5 linked regions of the Homo sapiens genome follow. The protein of the gene in region 1 purifies or fractionates together with the protein of each later gene. This does not show direct contact. Each region holds a gene or a part of one and is shown in the gene's direction. Other genes may lie near its edges. The genes, in order: DHX29, POGLUT1, MTHFD2, PAPOLG and DNAJC17.

Region 1 (3,586 bases):
TCTAGCCATTTCATAGAAAAAAAGGTTAATAAAACTGAGCATAGTAAACTTTGTTACTTATTAGCATTTTAGTAAACTGGTAACATAGCTATTATTTAAAAAAAAATAATAAGCCAAACATGGTGTCATATGCCTGTAGTCCTAGCTACCCAGAAGGCTGAGGTGGGAAGATTGCTTGAGCCCAGGAGTTAAAGTCCAGCCTAGACAACATAGAGAGACTCTGTCTCTAAGAAATATATGTATATATACACATACCTATATATGTATTTGTGTGTGTGTGTATGATTAGGGACTTTCTGTTAGGTTTATTTCAGCATGGTTTTTCCACCATGTGTTTCTTTCAAATGCAGAGCTATTTCTCTGTATAAAATAAACACATTATCCTTCAACAGAAATCTGAAATGAGCCGGGCATGGTGACACCTGCCTGTAATCCCACCACTTTGGAAGGCTGAGGCAGGAGGATCGCTTGAGGCCAGGAGTTCAAGACTAGCCTCGGTAACATAGGGAGATGCCATCTCTACAAACAATTAAAAAAAGTTAGCCGGGCCTGGTGGCTTGTACCTGTTGTCTCAGCTACTTGGGAGGCTGAGGCGAGTATCCGCACTCCAGTCTGGGTGACAGAGCAAGACCCCACATCAAAAAATAAGAGAGAAATCTGAAATGGACATCTGAGTTTGCAGTTTGCCCAGTGCAGTGTTTCTCAAACTTGCCAAATCATCAAAATCATCCTGGCAGTTGCAAAGAATACAAGGTCCAAAGACCTACCCCAGACATACTGATCTCTATGGGAGAGGCCTGTGGCTATATTATTTTTTAAATATTTTATTCTGTAACATTTCCCCTCTAAGGCTATCCCATTTTTAAATGCAGTTAATTATTTTTAATAAACTGAGTTGTTTTTCTGGTAGAATGTCCCACATTTAGGATTTGGTTAGTTACATACTCATGCTTTAACATGTTCATGTATTTCCTATAAACTGGTAGTTATATTTGGAGGTATGATTAGAATAAGTTTTGAGGAAAATAATACTTTCTAGTTGGTGCTGTATTCTCCCCACTGCGTCACACCAGGAAGCACTTAAATTTGGTTGTCCTTTTAATGTTAAGAATTGATCAGTGACTTCAGTATGATTGTACTGAACAAAGTATCCCCAGTTTATTCTCAACAGTCACAGGCAAGTTGGGGGAGCTACTGATCTAGTTCTACTACCCTGAAGCCTCATACTCTGTGTTTATTTGTATAACTAAATATGAATGCATAAGCATTAAAATGTATTAATTTTCCTATACTGCTGGAAACAGATCAAGTCTTAACATATTAAGACGTGGGCTCTTTTCTCAGGAAGCTTTGTGCATTATAACTTTGGCATTAGAAAGAATTACATTTTATAAAGTATAGGTTGAACCTCAGCTTTTAATTAAGCAAAATGATTTTTTGAAATGATATCAGTGTTTCCCTTTGCCATAAGAGAGAGAGCAGAACTTACCAAGTTGGGTGTAGTATATACGTTTGACTTGGGAGGAAGGAAGAAGTATGTTAGTGCTCTCTCTTGGATTTATAACAAAAAGTTGGTAGAATGCCAAACATTTGAAAAACAGTAACTGAACTTACTCTTGTACTTTCTTTTACTCTCTCTTCCTCAATTTAAAAATCATGGTTCTTGGAGCCAGGTATGGTGGCTTGCGCCTGTAATCCCAGCTACTCAGAGGGCTGAGATGGGAAGATTGCTTGAGCCCAGGAGTTCAGAGCTGCAGTGAGCTGTGATCACACCACTGCACTACAGCCTAGGCGAGAGTGAGACTCCATCTCTTAAAAAATAAAAAAGAAAAACGTTCTTTCTAGACCTGCCATTGTTCCAACTTCAAACAAGTGACCTCTCTTTTTCCCCTCCCTCCCACTTTTTTGTTGTTGTTTCTAATGCCACTGTAACCATTGCAACTATTGAAAGCGACAGCATTCTCTGAGTATCTAACGTAAATGTAGAATTTCAGTTTTGCAGCCCTGATAATTGTAACTTCCTAAAGAGTGGTTGTGAGGTTCTTAGGAAGTCACAATTTCAGAGTTAACTATTAAGTAGAAGCAGTTGTTAACAAAACCCCTTTAGCAAATAATGCAGCCTCTGTTGCTCTGTTTGTCAAATTAATTGGTATTTGATTCCTTTGTTGTGTAGAGAGGTCTGTCACTTCCGCATTGACACCTCTCCAAGAGCGCTTCCCTGTTAGAATTTTTTGTTTCCTTTGGACTAAACATGGAGAAACTGGTAACAGTTCTTTCTTCCTTGCTCATACTTTGGAAATTCTGCCATACTCTGAAGAACACTGAAGAGTCAGTAGAGCCTTCAGTATATTGCAGCCAAGTGAAAAAGTTGAGAAACTTACTTTCTTCAAGGAATTTTTATAGAATAAAATTTATAATTCCTTATAAAGAAGTAACATTTCACATCATATTATCTCTTTGGGGTTTAGCCTATACAAATGTTATCTGTTTTCAAAATGTTAACTTTTGTCAAACTAGGTATGGCATAACCTACAGCAATAAAATCTATGTAGGGCAAAAAATATTTTATAGGTGTCTCTAGTTTTATTACTGGTGTTAATTCTGTATTCTAATGTAAAAATTTTTAGTGACATATACCTCTTATTTACATGTGCATACCTTGGAAAATTAGACAATGTTGCATTTATTCGTGGCTTTTTTTTTTCCTTCCACTCAGATGACAAGATTCTGCAGATCATTACGGAATTGATAAAAACAGAGAATAACTGAAACTGAAATTCATGGTCAACTGCTTTAAAAATTAAGATGAAGATACAGTCATGAAATTATCTGAAAATGGGTCATCACATTAAGTATTTCATTACTTAAAATGTTGGTACTAGCCATTAACTTAAAGGTGGTGGGAAAAAAGCACATACTTTAAACATGTATAATTTTCTAGTTCCTTTTTAATGATGATTATTCTGAATGTATTTGCCACTACATTTACAATAAATTCTTTGGTATTATGCATGTTTTGCTCATCGTTGTGTTAATAAGGGCAAGGCCTATGTCTGTGGTATCTGTAGCTTAATGTTGTGATTCCCTGTGTAGCTGCCTCATCCCCTATCAGTCCTTGATGTCTGCAGAATTTAAACCCTATAGACCCAGAAGGGAAAATAATCTCCAAAACCAATTATAATTAAATTTCCATGAAAAGGAACAACTTCAGAAGTCAGTTATTTAGTATTTGATAGTCAATTTCAGAACCTAAATAAATGCACTATTAATAGATGCCACCTATTTCAGTAACATTCAAAAAGCATAAACATGTGGTTCTGGAAGACAGGCAAGATTGACTAATAAATACTCCTGTCAGCCTTGGGATGGATAGTTTGCACTGTTTTCCTCAGGCTACCGCTGTGATATCCCTGCCCCTGAACCCTTTTTATATACGCGATTGAACTGGTAAGGTCAGTAACTTTGAGATAGTAAAGTATGCGTAGGTATTTTTCATTGGTCCTATTTGTTTTGGTTACTAACAATCTTTTGAAATTCCATTTTTATTACTTAGAGGGATTTCTCATTTCTTAATCAATAGATTTTT
Region 2 (3,586 bases), on another chromosome or scaffold:
CCTGTGATCCCAGCACTTTGTGGTGGATTACTTGAGCCCAGGAGTTGGATTATGGCAAATAATCCGGCAGTGGCAAATAATACAACAGAGTGAGACCCTGTCTATTAAAAAATAAATAAATAAAGAGGAGTAACTAGTGCTGCAAATTACACTAGCCAGGACTTCAGAACTTCAGGTGTGAGACCTGAGGTACCATGTCAGTGGGCTGAAGGCAGGGTGGTAAGCAGGGAGGGTCATGGGCTGAGGGTGGAGGTTGGGTTTAGGCAGCATTGCACACACCAAAAGATAAACTTTATTTTTGGAGTTTGTTTTTTTTTTTTAACTCAGATCTTTATAAAATTAGAAGGTACAAAACTCAGAGGGCATAATATTCCCTTATGTAAGAGCATCTTTCTAAACAATCCCTATTCTGTCATTAAAAGTGAAATAAATGTGCAGAGTTGCAAAAAATTATCGATTCGTTCATAAAGATTTGTATTATTTGTATTTAATAACAACTTTGTAAGAATTTAATATTTATTCTTATAAGTATATAAACAAGGCCGGGTGCGGTGGCTCAAGCCTGTAATCCCAGCACTTTGGGAGGCTGAGATGAGCGGATCACTTGAAGTCGGGAGTTTGAGACCAAACTGACCAACATGGAGAAACCCTGTCTTTACTAAAAATACAAAATTAGCCAGCTGTGGTGGCGCATGCCTGTAATCCCAGCTACTCAGGAGGCTGAGGCAGGAGAATTGCTTGAACCCAGGAGGCAGAGGTTGCGGTGAGCTGAGATTGTGCCATTGCACTCCAGGCTGGGAAACAAGAGCGAAACTGTCTAAATAAATAAATAAATAAATGTAAACAAGAAAACAGGCTGGGCATGGTGGCTTGTGCCTATAATCCCAGCACTTCGGGAAGTCAATGCACGCAGATCGCTTGAGCTCAGGAGTTCAAGACGAGCCTAGGCCACATGGCAAAACCTCATCTCTACAAAAAATACAAACATTAGCTGAGTGTGGTGGCATGTGTTTGTAGTCCTAGCTACTTGGGAGGCTGAAGTGAGTGGATCACCTGAGCCCAGGAGGTCAAGGCTGCAGTAAGCCTGAGCCGTGATTATGCCACTGCACTCCAGCCAGGGTGATAGAGCAAGACCTGTCTCAAATAAATAATAATAAAGAACAATAAAAAAGAAAGATTATTTAATATCTCACTACCCTGAGGAAATCAGTTACCCTTTGGCTATCAGATATCGGAGGAAATAAGGTTGTAGAGGAAAAAATCGTTAAGGTATTTTAAACAGACATTTGTTTCATTATTTGGAACTCAATAATAGAGACTTTAAGTACAAATTGTGAGTCTAGGAGAATTTTTGATTTCCACAGATGAGAAATAAAATAAGAATATAGACATTGTTGGACTTTGAAAGCTTACCCAATGTTTAATAGTTTGCTGAACAATTGCCAAATGAAATGAAATGCTTTCAAAGTTTCTGAAAGGCACAATTCTCTTCTTCCTGAGCTCAGAACATTTTGGTCATAATCATGAGCTTAGAAATGTTCTGAAGGGAGTACAGGACCTTCATTAGCAATAAAATAATATATATTTCCAATGACACTGAAAGTTCCCTATCCTAGCTACATATACAACTAAGGAAAACAGAGAGGGACAAAATACGAATAGAATGCAGTATTCCAAAACACAATCCTGAATGAAATGCACACAGTCGTATGATATCTCAAAGATTCCCATATAGTTAGAAATAATATCTTTCTACGTCTAGATACTTTTTTTTTTTTTTTTGAGAGAGAGAATCTCACTCTGTCACCCAGTCTGGAGTGCAGTGGTGTGATCTCGGCTCACTGCAACCTCTGCCTCCCGGGTTCAAGCCATTCTCTTGCCTCAGCCTGCTGAGTAGCTGGGACTACAGGCGCCCGCCACCACACCTGGCTAATTTTTGTGTTTTTAGTAGAGACGGGGTTTCACCTCGTTCGTCAGGCTGGTCTCAAACTCCTGACCTCATGATCTGCCTGCCTCGGCCTCCCAAAGTGCTGGGATTACAGGCAGGTCTAGATACTTTTAACTCATCCAGTTTCAGAAATCTATGTGACATTTTAAAAACTCAGTTTTGAATAAAATAAAATATAAACTCCACATTTCAAGGATGAGCAGAGGAACCAGAGGTTTATCTAATTAATGCTAGAGACAAGTCATTTCAAAGATGAGGAGTAATGGTATTTTTTAATAACAGCTTTATTGAGGTGTGGTTAACATAAATTACATATAAAGTATACAATGTAAATGTTCCCACAACAAAAAAATAGTATGTGAGGATATGTTAATTAGCTTGATATACTCATTCCACAATGTAAACATATATCAAAACATTACATTGTATCCTGTAAATATGTACAATTATTATTTATCAATTAAAAATAAAACCTACAGTGTACACTGATAAGTCTTCATGTATGTTTATACCAAGATAATGAACCTTCCATCACAACCAAAACGTTCCTTCTGCCTCTTTGCATTCCCTCTCTCCTGCGTCTCCCTGTCTCCCTCTCCTCCCCATGCCCCACCTTCAGGCAGCCGCTGACTACTTTCTCGAATTATAGATTATTTTCTAGTTTTCTATAAATGGAATCATATAAGAGAGTATATTTGAAAAGCCAAATGTGGCCGGGCATGGTGGATCACACCTGTAATCCCAGCAGTTTGGGAGGCTGAGGTGAGTGGATCACTTGAGGTCAGGAGTTCGAGATCACCCTGGCCAATATGGTGAAACCCCGACTCTACTAAAAATACAAAAAAATTTAGCCAGGCATGGTGGCAGGCGCCTGTAATCCCAGCTACTTGGGAGGCTGAGGCAGGAAAATCGCTTGAACCCGGGAGGCGGAGGTTACAGTGAGCTAAGACCACGCCATTACACTCCAGCCTGGTCAACAAGAAAGAAACTCCATCTCAAAAAATAAAAATTAAATTAAACTAAATTAAAAGCCAAATGTGAAAGAAATACGAGCATTTTAGCTGTAATGTATAAATTGTACTGCAATATTTTTTTACATTTTTTAACTAGTTTTTTTTTTCTTTTAGTGTCAAAGAGTATTACATACACTTTGGATATGTAAAATATCCAAATATTTTACCATGCTAAAATATTTGGATACCTCCAAAAGACATTCAGTGAAAAGGAAGTTTCTCTTCCACCTCAGACCCTCAGACTGCTAGTCCCTGAGACCTCTTTTCAAAAGACAATTAGAATTCTGTGTCTTGTATATCCTTCTAGAAATAGTCTGTACATTTACAAGCATCTAGACTCATCAACAAAATAAAACATGCTGTCTTCTGTTCTGCACTTAGATTTCTTTTCCATATAACAGTAGATTTTGAGATTGTTCCATAAGAGTCCATAGAGAATGCCTCACTTTTTCATGGCTGCATAATAACTTATTATATGGATTTCTTTATTCAGCCCTCTATCAGTGGACATTTAGATTATCCCTTACCACATCACTTTGCTTTTTGGATAACGCAAGCAATGCTGCAGTGAACATCCTTGTTACTGTGAACACTCATGTAAATATATATGTAGGCTAAATTCCTA
Region 3 (4,226 bases), on another chromosome or scaffold:
CAGTAACTGTCATGTTTCTTCACTGTAAATTTACCATTTTCCTTTCCTTCCTGGAGGCTAGAAGTAAAGGTCAAGGTGTTGACAGGATTGGTTTCCCCTGTTCTTTGTTTGTTTGTTTTGTTTTTTGAGACAGAGTCTTTTTGTTGCCCAGGCTGAAGTGCAGTGGCACAGTCTCGGCTCCCTGCAACCTCTGCCTCCCAGATTCAAGCGATTCTCATGCCTCAGTCTCCCCAGTAGCTGGGATTACAGCGTCCGCCACGATGCTCAGATAATTTTTTGTGTTTTTAGTAGAGACGGGGGTTTCAACACATTGGCCAGGCTGGTCTCGAACTCCTGGCCTCAGGTGATCCGTCCGCCTTGGCCTCCCAAAGAGCTGGGGATTACAGAAGTGAGCCACCGCGCCCTGCCCTCCTTAAGTTTCCTTGCGGGAGAGATACTTTGAGACTATGCAAAAAGTTTGCGGGAAAAAATACAGGAAGCCCAGTTGAATCTGAATTCCAGATAAGCCATAAATAAAGTATAAATATGACCTCCCAAAGTGTTTATCTAAAATTCTGATTTGATTGGGCATCTTGTGTTTTTATTTGCTAGATCTGGCAACCCTATATGTAAATATCTTGCTCCTCATCCAACTTTCACCCAGTTGTTTTGACATCTATTGCTGCTTCTGAATCAGGGTTGCACATGCAACCCTGACGTCTGTCTCTGAATATCTTTTATGATTTTACTTTTTTTGTTGTTGTTTTGAGATATGGTCTCACTCTCGTCGCCCAGGCTGGAGTGCAGTGGCGCGCCTTCAGCTCACTGCAGCCTCAACCTCCTGAACTCAGGTGATCCTTCCACCTCAGCCTCCCCAGTAGCTGGTACTGTAGTCACGCGCCACCATGTACTGATTTTGGAAAATGGTGATTTTCTAACTCCATCATTCCTTTTACTTCTGTTCGTTGGCATTCTATCAGCTTGTCTTTTCATCCACCCTTTACAGTGCTTGGCACACAGTAGGCGCTCATATAATTGTTCAACGAATGAATGAATGAACTTTTCTCTTGTGTTGTCCGGCCTTCGGTGACACTAGCGGCGTCAGGCAGGAGTTTGACTTCCTCAGCCTATCATGGCACGTTGCCGAGGCTTCAGCGCCTTACAGGACCTCGCTCCAGGCTCTTCTGGCTCCAATCAAAAGCAGGGCTCTTTCGGACTTCGCTTACGTTTAATAAAGAAAACCGGTTGGCCCCTTCGGCTCCACCTGGCTCAACAGACAGCCAGTGGCATGCGGCAGGGACCAATGGGTGGCGGAGGGAGGCGGGGCCTGCCACGAGGCCGCAGTATAACCGCGTGGCCCGCGCGCGCGCTTCCCTCCCGGCGCAGTCACCGGCGCGGTCTATGGCTGCGACTTCTCTAATGTCTGCTTTGGCTGCCCGGCTGCTGCAGCCCGCGCACAGCTGCTCCCTTCGCCTTCGCCCTTTCCACCTCGCGGCAGTTCGGTAAGAGGGTCACAGAGCTCGGTCAGCGCGGAAAGCTGAGGGGAACGGAGGGCGAGGGGCACGCCGGGCCCCCGAGGGACACCGAGGGAAGTCCTTCCCGAACATCTCCGCCCCGGCGGTGGTGGCCGCTGAGGGGTGTGGCGGGGCGACGTGGCACCGAGCGCCGCCGCAGCTCTCGACTGGGGCGCTTCCTCGGCGCGGAGGGCTGGTACCCGAAGCCCGCCTTTCGGAGGGAGCCGCTCTCCTGCGACTCGGGGCGTCGCCGGGGCCCGTGGCCAGTCGGCGGGCGGGACGGGGGTGGCGTGCGGAACGCGAAGGCATCAGTTTACGCGGAGCCTTCCGACAGCGCCGGCCGCCTCTGGCTGGGATGCTGAGAGTCGTCTGGGGGAGAACAGGCGAGGGTTCCAAAAGAGCAGCCCTCGGCGAGTTGTCCTTGCGGGGACCCTAGCGGCGGAGGGCGCTGCTGCAGCTGATGAAATCGCGGAGCCGACTTGCTCGGGGTCCCCGCGCCGCCCTCCTCCCTCCGCCGGTGGGAGTGGCCCGCGCTGCCTCCGCTCTGCCAGGAACATGAACGGACTCTGGGCACCCTAGCTTTGGCTGCAGCCCACCAGAGCCTGTCAGTGCCGGGCTGCGTACATAGAGGTGGCAAACATCCGGGAGGCTCCCAGGGCCTTAGGGAAAGGGGGAATGGAGAGTGACAAGTACCCATATTTCAGCGGTACTTGCAGAATTTCAGTTTTACAAGATGAAGAGTTCTGAAGATGGATGGTGGTGATGGTTGCACAACATATGAACGTATTTAATACCACTGAACTGCACTTAAAAATGGTTAAGATGGGCCGGGCGTGGTGACACGCGCCGAGGCTGAGGCACGAGAATCGCTTGAGCCCAGGAGTTCGAGGCTGCAGTGAGCCGTGATTGCACCACTGCCCTCCAGTCTGGGCGACAGAGCGAGACCCTGTCTCAAAAAAAAAAAAAAAAAAAAAAGTTGATAAGGTTTATGTTATGTGAATTTTACCACAATAACAAAATTGGGAAAAATATACAGGGGAGGAGGAAAGGAAAAGCTCTGTTTGCATTTTTGGGTTTCCTTGGGAAGGTGATTTGGTCGGTCATTAGAGCGCTGGCATTGTTGGCATTGTTAGAGCCCTGCACCTTACAACATCAGCCCCTTCTTTTTTTCATCTAACGTTCACTGTGTACCAGACACTATGCCAAGCTGTGCGAATTCAAAGATGAGAAAAACTGTTCTTAATGGAGCTCATGTTCCTGACAAGGGGCAGAACACGCGTGTAATTTCCAGTCAGTGCGGAAATGCTGTTAGAAATATTTCAAAGGCGCTGCTTGTTGGAGCAATGAGTTCTTGAAGGAAAACGTGGGAGGGGACTTTCAGGGTTTTCCCTGGTCTGACTCTTGACCTCCCCCATGTTTCGTTACTGTGTGTTTTCTCCCCTTCTCCCTCTTCCTGAGTGCTGGCCTCATGTGACTGTGGACCAGACCTTTCCTAGGCTTCCATGGTCCAAAAGAGATTTATAAAGATGCTCTCATTCATTACCTAAAGAACTGGGCCAGTTTGTCTACACTCTCCAATAACAAATGCTCTTTTCACTACCTTTCTGAAAGAACAAGTAAGCTTCATCCACATCTCTGAAAGCAATCCATATTATCTGTACTGCACATTTGCTATTTACAATTCCCACATATTGCTTTCTTACTGCTGCTTATTTTTTAAAATACTGTTTATTTTTAAATACTGCTTATTTTTAAAAAGTTGTATCCTTTTAAAAATATGAGTCTGCATTCTTTTTTTTTTTTTCTTTGTTGGATGGTATGAGAGTTTCAGGAACATAAACCTATGGTTGGAGAAATAGTAGCCTAGGAGACAGTGGGATTAGGAAGTCAATGGACTTTAGAGGCAGAAGTTTGCCTTTGAATCTTGTTTCTACTATCCTCAGTTTCATCTTCTGTATTACAGTGTTATTATAATAGTCCCAAGGTAACAGAGTAATATATGTTAAAGTGTAAGCAAAACACCTAGTGTTTAATAGATGTTTGTTCCTTTCTCCATTATGTCTTCCTTCACTCATTATTTTTCCCATTAATAATTGATAACAACTCTTCCCTAAATCACTTGATTATGAATTGTAAAATGTCCTGATACTAATTTCTCATGGAAAATTACAGTACTGTAAGCTATTGAATTAAAAGGAAAGTGAAGATGCTACTCACTTGGATTTTAGTTTTGAATTTTATTTTATTTTTTGAGACGGAGTCTTACTTTGTTGCCCAGGCTGGAGTGCAATGGTGCAATCTTGGCTCACTGCAACCTCTGCCTCCTGGGTTCAAGCTGTTCTCCTACCTCAGCCTCCCAAACAGCTGGGACTATAGGCGCACACCACCATGCCCTGCTAATTTTTGTATTTTTAGTAGAGACAGGGTTTCACCATGTTGGCCAGGCTGGTCTCGACCTCCTGACCTCAAATGATCCACCCACCTTGACCTCCCAAAATGCAGGGATTACAGGCATGAGCCACAGTTTTGGATTTTATTTGAACAGTCCTCTTGACTTCTTCCTATTCTGTTGATTACCTATCTTAATGGGATTTTTTTCTTTCCTTTTTTTTTTTCTTTTTTGGCAGGGGAATCTCTCCCTAGGTCAGGTTGGAGTGCAGTGCTGCAATCACGGCTTACTGCAGCCTTGACCTCCTGGGCTCAAGTGATCCTCCCACCTCAGCTTGTGAGTAA
Region 4 (3,586 bases), on another chromosome or scaffold:
GATATTTTTTATAGTTAATACTAAAGAAACAATTTTCCATAGCTGTTGGTGTTCTGTTAGGAGTTGGCTGAAAAGAATATTTACCCAAATCTTAAAGAAACAATATTAATTGCTCATCCTAAATTGAAATTACTAATACGTCTGAAAATTTGAATGATTGGTCTGAGTTTCTCCTTGATTTACAGAAGTCATTACTGATAACAAAATCTCATTTCTTGTGTGTTGATATGCCCTGCTTCCAGTAGGTGGTGGTAAAACTATATTTGTTAGAATCTGAATTGATTTAACCAAAAAGATCACCCAAACTGTAGAAATTAACGGTGGCAGTTGAATTCAATCTAATTTAAATTATCTTCTCTTACCAATCCATGTTTATAGTAATTTTTATAATAGTGTAACCAATAACTAGTTTTCCAGTTTATATAGATTTATATGGGTTTTTGTAGGTACATAATAGCAATCTATTTCAATGTTTATATTTTAGTTTATTCGACTTGAATCAACATTTAAGGACCCCCGCACTGCTGAAGAAAGAAAAAGAAAATCAGTGGTAAATATATTAATAGTGTGCTTCAGAATATTTATTGTAAAGCGCCATGTATCAGGAAAAGTGCCATATTAGAAAGTAGGTCAGATTAGATTTATTTTCAGGTTTTCGTTAGGTTTTATTTTAAGTAGAAATAAGTGTTTGCATATAGGAAAGTTAGTTTTCACTTGTGTTGATTCTTCTGTTTTTAGGATGCCATTGGAGGAGAATCTATGCCTATTCCAACTATTGATACATCACGCAAAAAGGTAACAAGATAGTCTTGTTCATAGGTACAGTACATAGGTAAAAACTCATAGGTAATCTACAAGTACAAAAGGCTTATTAAGAGCCTAGCACTGGGAAAAAGTAAGATTTTGTCCCTGTCCCCAAGGACTAGCAGTGTAGTTGGGGTTGGAGATAGCAAGTATATAGTTCTGAATGTATGTACCTCAAAAGTCTAAAAAAGAGGCAGTAGTTTAAGACAACTTTATTATCTATTTAGATTATGTTCACCCTTTGTTTTTTATCTTTAAAGAAGCAGTTGGATGCTCAGCACATTAATTTCTTACCAAGCACCTGGAGGTATATCTCTGTTGTGTACTATTGCTTACTGCCAAAACATAGGTTTGATAATTAGGAACCATATGTATTAATATTTTAGAGGAACCAAATGTAGTGGTATATATAGTAAGTACCTTTAAAACATGAGCTAAACGCCCCTAAATTGTAATTTAAATGTTTATTATTTGAAGAATTACTTTTATAACTAAAAATGTGTGTAGTATTAAGTGTGGTATGCTAAAAAGCAAGTACTCAAAAACCAGCCTTGTGTAAATAGAGAAAAACCTTCTCTGAGAGTTTATAATGAACAGAATGGCTTATTTATAATAATGATAAATAATTATAAATATATATGATGATAATTATAAATTATAATTTATAATAAAACAGAATGGCCATTAAATAGTAAAGTGCTTTTCATCAACTGTTACCCTGCCAGGTTCTCCAGGATGTAGTAGCTATTCTAAAGCAAAATAGTATACTCACAGGCTATTAGTTGTAGATTTTGAGCCTTTAACATAAGATTAAGTTACAAAAAATATGAACGTATAATTATGTGTCATGGTGGAAGAAAAAATTTTGAGATGGATATTGAAGTACAAAAGAGTGAAATGACATATCTGGATTTTTTAATATATCCAGTCTAAAGGGAAAGTGGGTACACCAAACAATTGCAGCAAAATTGTAATAATGTCTGAAACTTGGTTTTGGCATTTAAGTCCTTATTGCCCTGGTGTCTACTTCTTTGTATATCTGAAATTGCTCATAATTGTTTTAATGCATATGGATATGATACAGATACTGGCTTAGCCAAGGTAAAACAAGAGGAGAATTAAGCAGTCATCTCTTGACAAGAAACTATCCCCATTACAGAAGTCTAGATTTTGCCTTCCTTTTTTTTTTTTTTTTTTTTTTTTTTGGACATGGAGGCTCGCTCTGTAGCCCAGGTTGGAGTGCAATGGCGCGATCTTTTTGTATTTGTAGTGGCTAATTTTTGTATTTGTAGTGGAAAAGGGTTTCACCATATTGGCCAGGCTGCTCTTGAACTCCTGACCTCAAGTGATTCGCCCGCCTTGGCCTCCCAAAGTTCTGGGATTACAGGCGTGAACCACCATGCCCGGCCCTAGATTTTGCCTTCTTTATGTAATAATCTTTAATGCCCTCAGAATCCCTCAAACCGATGTCCCTGAATTTCATAACCATCAAAGTTATCTAGCCTAAGTACAAAGTTCAGTTTTCCTGAGAACTTAAGTATCTCACAGATTGAGTCAGTGGTCTTCTTCATGAATGTATTACAGAAACAAATTGAGGGACATAACTCTCAGATATTAAATTTTTCTCTACTGCACACACTCATTTTTCACTTCACACCCCAAGAGCTTCCTGTTTAGTCACCATGAACTTCCTTTTTTTTTTCTTTGCTTGACCTTAAGGACTGTGTTCTTTATGCATTTCTTGATCCAGGCATGGCAGTTCCTCTTTTCCTGTACATATTCACACTCCTGCCACTTCTACCCTTTCTCTTATCCCTCTGCTTTTCACCTCTGACTGTAAAAAGAAGTAGCAGTTCCGAAAGCAAGAGTTCCCTATGAACACGGAAGGAAATATTCATTGCATACTTGAGTGTTTAGGAGCTAGAGGGTTTGGGAGAAAAACTCCCCAAGTTTTGTGACTGACTTTCTAGCTGGGCCTTTATAATATATATGATGTGCTTTTCCTTTTTTGTTTCCTCTTTCTTTCTAATAGAGACTACCCAGTAAAGAACTACCAGATTCATCATCTCCAGTTCCAGCAAACAACATCCGTGTCATCAAAAATTCCATTCGACTGACCCTTAATCGGTAAAAGCAGTGCCTCCTCACTTAAGTGAACAAGCAATCATTTAGTGGCATAGATGCAGCCACTTGTTTTTTAAATAGAAGTGGCTGTCATACGTGAAATAAGGTGAAAGTGACAGCCTTCAGTCTAATAACCTTGAAGTGGTTTTTGAACTGTCAAACTTTGACCTGTAGATGCTGTAGCATTCTCTCACTGATTGCTACATACACTTCTCTGAGGATCACCTGCTGTCAAATTGCCATCTACAGTATTACAGCTTTGCATTTGGGGGTTTTACTGCCTTAACTTTCAATGCTTGTTATGGGAACCAGTTCTTAGCCACTTGGACACTGATAACAAGTCCTGAACTCCTTTTTTGTTTTGTTTTTTGTGTTTTTCTTTTTTTGTCTTATGTTGTAATCATTGTATAGAGCTAAAAAAATTGAAAACAAACAAAAAAATTGTCTTGTATTTTCCAAATGTTAATACATTTACTTTAGCATTGAAGCCACTTTGAAACCTGAGATAAATGAATGTGAGGTATCTTTTCTGCTTTCCTCATTTGTGTAGATGTACTGTCTGTTCTGTTGATTTAAATTATTTTTTTCCAGATTGGCACATGAAATATTTAAACTTTTTTGTGTGCCTTTCTGTCCAAATGTTGCATAGTTACCAGGG
Region 5 (3,586 bases), on another chromosome or scaffold:
CTGCAGCCTCGACTTCCTGGGCTCAAGTGATCCCACCTCAGCCTCTCATGTAGTTGGGACTGCAGGTGTGCATCATCATGCCTGGCTAATTTGTTTTGTGTTTGTTTTTGCTTTTTTTTTTTTTCCAGAGACGGGGTCCAGCTATATTGCCCAGGCTGGTGTCGAACTCCTGGGTTCAAGCTATCCTCCTGCCTGGTCTCCCAGAGTGCTGGGATTGCAGGCATGAGCCACTGTGCCCTGCCCATAATTGGATTTTAAAGAAAGTATTTGACTGAGTGTGATGGCTCACACCTGCAATCCCAGCACTTTGGGAGGCCAAGGTGGAAGGAACGCTTGAGGCCAGGAGTTTGAGACCAGCCTGGGAAACGTAGTGAGAGCCTGTCTCTCTCTCTATATATAAAAAAAAAAGCTGGGCAGGGTGTTACGCACCTGTAGTCCCCGCTACATGGGAGGCTGAGGTGGGAGGATCACTTGAGCCTGGGAAGTTTCAGTGAGCTATGATTTTGCCACTGTATTCCAGCCTGGATGACAGGGTGAGACCCTGCCACTCTTAAAAAAGAAAAGAAAATTCAACACTAGTGTGCATAATGAAAATGGGTGGGGGTGGGAGGAATGGAAGAGCTGCCACTAGGGGGTCAGATGGGGCTGGTGTCTAGGCAAGAGACCAAGGTCTGAGCTGGGCAGTGGTGGCTGGGATCCAGTTCTAACTCAGATGAGATAAGGGATAGGTGTGAAGCCACTCTATAAAGGGTAACAGGTGCTGCTCCTGCCTTTAATGGGGGGGCAAGATTCACGCATACAAGGGAGACATGGTGAGTTCCTTAAGAGGGGTACAAAGTGCTGTGGATGTTCAGTGTAGGCTGAGATTGCTATTAGTTTGAGAGAAGGAATAAAGGCAGGAGAGAAGGTATTTGGGGCCTTGAAGAATGGGCAGAGTTTGGACATGTGGAGATGGAGGCAGGGCATTCCAAGAAAGCAAATGTATATATTAATACATACAGTCTATTTTGGAGCATAAGTAGGTGGCACCCTCAAAGAGGCCTTACCTATTTTTCTTTTCATAGCAGCCATTCTCCTTTCTAGCACTTACTCCCATTTACACTTTGGATACACTGGCTAGCTTCATGGCAACACACTTTTTGGTAGAAAGCAAGAAAAACCTAGGCCCTGGTGTCCCCGCACCATGGTTTAATACCTGTCATAGACAACCTAGGTTGCTGCCATAGGGCAACCTAGAGGACAAACAAATATTTAAAGTGTATACAAGGAAGAACTCCTAAACTGGTTGTCCAAATAGCCTAGGAGTTCTCAATTTGCCCTCTACAGAAAGGCTCCAGGAACTGGGTGAAGGAACCTCTGAAAATCATGCGTGATTTTTTTTTTTTTTGTATTTATTCTGGAGGAGAGGAGGACTTTTTTTTTCTTTTTTTTTTTTTTGACCCAGGGTCTCTCTGTGTTACCCACGCTGGAGTCAGTGGCATGATTACTGCTCACTGCAAACTCTGCCTCCTGGGCTCAAGCAATCCTCCCACCTCAGCCTCAAAAGTAGCTGGGACCACAGGTGTGCACCGCCATGCCTGGCTAATTTTTGTATTTTTGTAGAGATCGGGTTCCACCATGTTGGCCAGGTTGGTCTTGAACTCCTGGGTTCAAGCAGTCCTCCCGCCTTGGCCTCTGAAAAGTGTTTGGGTTATAGGCATGAGCTACCACGCCTGGCCAGAGGAGGGAATTTTAATCCAAAAGTCAAAGAAGCCCTAATGGAGGCCAAGCTCCCTGTGTTACTGATGGCGAAACTGCAGCTCGGAGAAGGTGGTTAGTGGCAGAATTGGGACTAGAACCCTGATGCCCTGATGCCCTGATGCCCTGATGTCCAGCTCAGGCCTCTGCTCCTTCTGCTAAGGCTCCCTGGCCCTGTCCAGCGCGGTTCAGTGGTAGTGATGAGCACCACCACCAAATTTAACTTGTGTTCAGACTACTTCTCTGAATCTCAAATCTGTGTATCTATCTGCCTGTTTGATCCCTCCATGTGGATGTTTCACAGCGGTCTAAATCTTACTACATCCAAAAATTGGCCAGGCGCAGTGGCTCATGTCTGTAATCCCAGCACTTCGAGAGGCCCAGGCAGGCAGATCACCTGAGGTCAGGAGTTTTAGACAGCCTGGCCAACAGGGTGAAATCCTATCTCTACTAAAAATATAAAAACTAGCCAGACGCGGTGGCACGTGCCTGTAGTCCCAGCTACTGGGAGGCTGAGGCAGGAGAATCGCTTGAACCTGGGAGGCGGAGGTTGCAGTGAGCTGAGATCAAGCCACTGCACTCCAGCCTGGGTGACGGAGCTAGAATCTGTCTCGAAAAAAAAAAAAAAAAAAATTGAACTCTTTCAATTCTCTCTCCAAACCTGCTCCTTCCTTGGATTTCCCCATCTTGTGGCACCACCATCCATCCATTCAAGCTAGGAACCTGGAGTCATTCTCAGTACCTCCCTATCCTCTCACCCCTGCCATCTAGAACATCACCGGGTCCTGATGAGTCAGCCTCCCAAATAATCCCCAAACCTGTTCACCCTCTCTGTCTCCACCACTACTGCTCCAGCCCAGGCCCCCATCCACTCAGCTGAATGTTTAGAGGAGCCTGCCAACTTTTTTCTGCTTTCAGCCTATTCCATTCTGATCTATTGAGCCTCTCCAATTCTCCTCACAGAAAATGGAATGATCTTGCTACTCCCTGAAAACCCTATTTAGCACTTCTAATAAAATACTCAATAGAATTTCTTTTCTTTTCTTTTTTTTTTTTTTTTTTTTGAGACGGAGTCTCGCTCTGTCACCCAGGCTGGAGTGCAGTGGCTGCAAGCTCCGCCTCCCAGGTTCACGCCATTCTCCCGTCTCAGCCTCCTGAGTAGCTGGGACTACAGGCGCCCGCCACCACGCCCGGCTAATTTTTTGTATTTTTAGTAGAGACGGGGTTTCACCATTCACAGGATGGTCTTGATCTCCTGACCTCGTGATCCGCCCACCTCGGCCTCCCAAAGTGCTGGGATTGCAGGCGTGAGCCACCGCACCCAGCCAATACTCAACAATTTCTTAGCTCATTCATACATTTTCCTCTGCCAGGAATGCTCTTCCTCCCCTTCTGCTAATCTGGGTTGCTTTTACTTGTCCTTCAGAACTCAGTCGAAATGGCATCCTCAGAGAAGCCTTGCCTTATATTCTATTTCATGGCAGCTGGTTTTTCTTTTTTCTAGCACTTATTTCAGTTTGCAATTATGTATTTATCTGTGTGATTATTTGTCTCATGCCTTAATCCCCTCTGCACTCCTACTTCTGAGGACCAGATCTGATTCATGCTCTTCTGTAGCAGCCCCTTACCTGGTGACTGGCACATAGTAGGTTCTCAATAAGTATTTGTTGAATGAATGAAGTAGTAGCTAAAGAGACCACTGCAACGACTTTACTTGAGAATCAGGAGACCAAGGGCAGTCACTGCGTCTCTCAGGACCTGACTTTCCCCAAATGTAAAATGAAGGAGTAGGGCAAACTACAGTTTGAGGGGCCAAATGGCCCATGACCTTTTTTTTTTTTTTTTTGAG

Evidence for each region.
Region 2: the proteins of DHX29 (region 1) and POGLUT1 fractionate together in Homo sapiens (co-fractionation; one large-scale study listed by BioGRID). This does not show direct contact.
Region 3: the proteins of DHX29 (region 1) and MTHFD2 fractionate together in Homo sapiens (co-fractionation; one large-scale study listed by BioGRID). This does not show direct contact.
Region 4: the proteins of DHX29 (region 1) and PAPOLG fractionate together in Homo sapiens (co-fractionation; one large-scale study listed by BioGRID). This does not show direct contact.
Region 5: the proteins of DHX29 (region 1) and DNAJC17 fractionate together in Homo sapiens (co-fractionation; one large-scale study listed by BioGRID). This does not show direct contact.

Annotation. Positions count from the first base shown.
Region 1 is NC_000005.10:55,255,671-55,259,256, reverse strand, and holds the end of DHX29 (ATP-dependent RNA helicase DHX29), read left to right. Parts: intron 1-2,716; coding exon 2,717-2,769; 3' UTR 2,770-3,202; downstream 3,203-3,586. UniProt on the Homo sapiens protein: ATP-binding RNA helicase involved in translation initiation. Part of the 43S pre-initiation complex that is required for efficient initiation on mRNAs of higher eukaryotes with structured 5'-UTRs by promoting efficient NTPase-dependent 48S complex formation.
Region 2 is NC_000003.12:119,471,895-119,475,480, forward strand, and holds part of POGLUT1 (protein O-glucosyltransferase 1 precursor), read left to right. Parts: intron 1-3,586. UniProt on the Homo sapiens protein: Dual specificity glycosyltransferase that catalyzes the transfer of glucose and xylose from UDP-glucose and UDP-xylose, respectively, to a serine residue found in the consensus sequence of C-X-S-X-P-C.
Region 3 is NC_000002.12:74,197,262-74,201,487, forward strand, and holds the start of MTHFD2 (bifunctional methylenetetrahydrofolate dehydrogenase/cyclohydrolase, mitochondrial isoform A precursor), read left to right. Parts: upstream 1-1,353; 5' UTR 1,354-1,380; coding exon 1,381-1,481; intron 1,482-4,120; exon of another isoform or gene 4,121-4,218; intron 4,219-4,226. UniProt on the Homo sapiens protein: Although its dehydrogenase activity is NAD-specific, it can also utilize NADP at a reduced efficiency.
Region 4 is NC_000002.12:60,794,226-60,797,811, forward strand, and holds part of PAPOLG (poly(A) polymerase gamma), read left to right. Parts: intron 1-484; coding exon 485-550; intron 551-738; coding exon 739-795; intron 796-2,836; coding exon 2,837-2,935; 3' UTR 2,936-3,586. UniProt on the Homo sapiens protein: Responsible for the post-transcriptional adenylation of the 3'-terminal of mRNA precursors and several small RNAs including signal recognition particle (SRP) RNA, nuclear 7SK RNA, U2 small nuclear RNA, and ribosomal 5S RNA.
Region 5 is NC_000015.10:40,800,953-40,804,538, reverse strand, and holds part of DNAJC17 (dnaJ homolog subfamily C member 17), read left to right. Parts: intron 1-3,586. UniProt on the Homo sapiens protein: May negatively affect PAX8-induced thyroglobulin/TG transcription.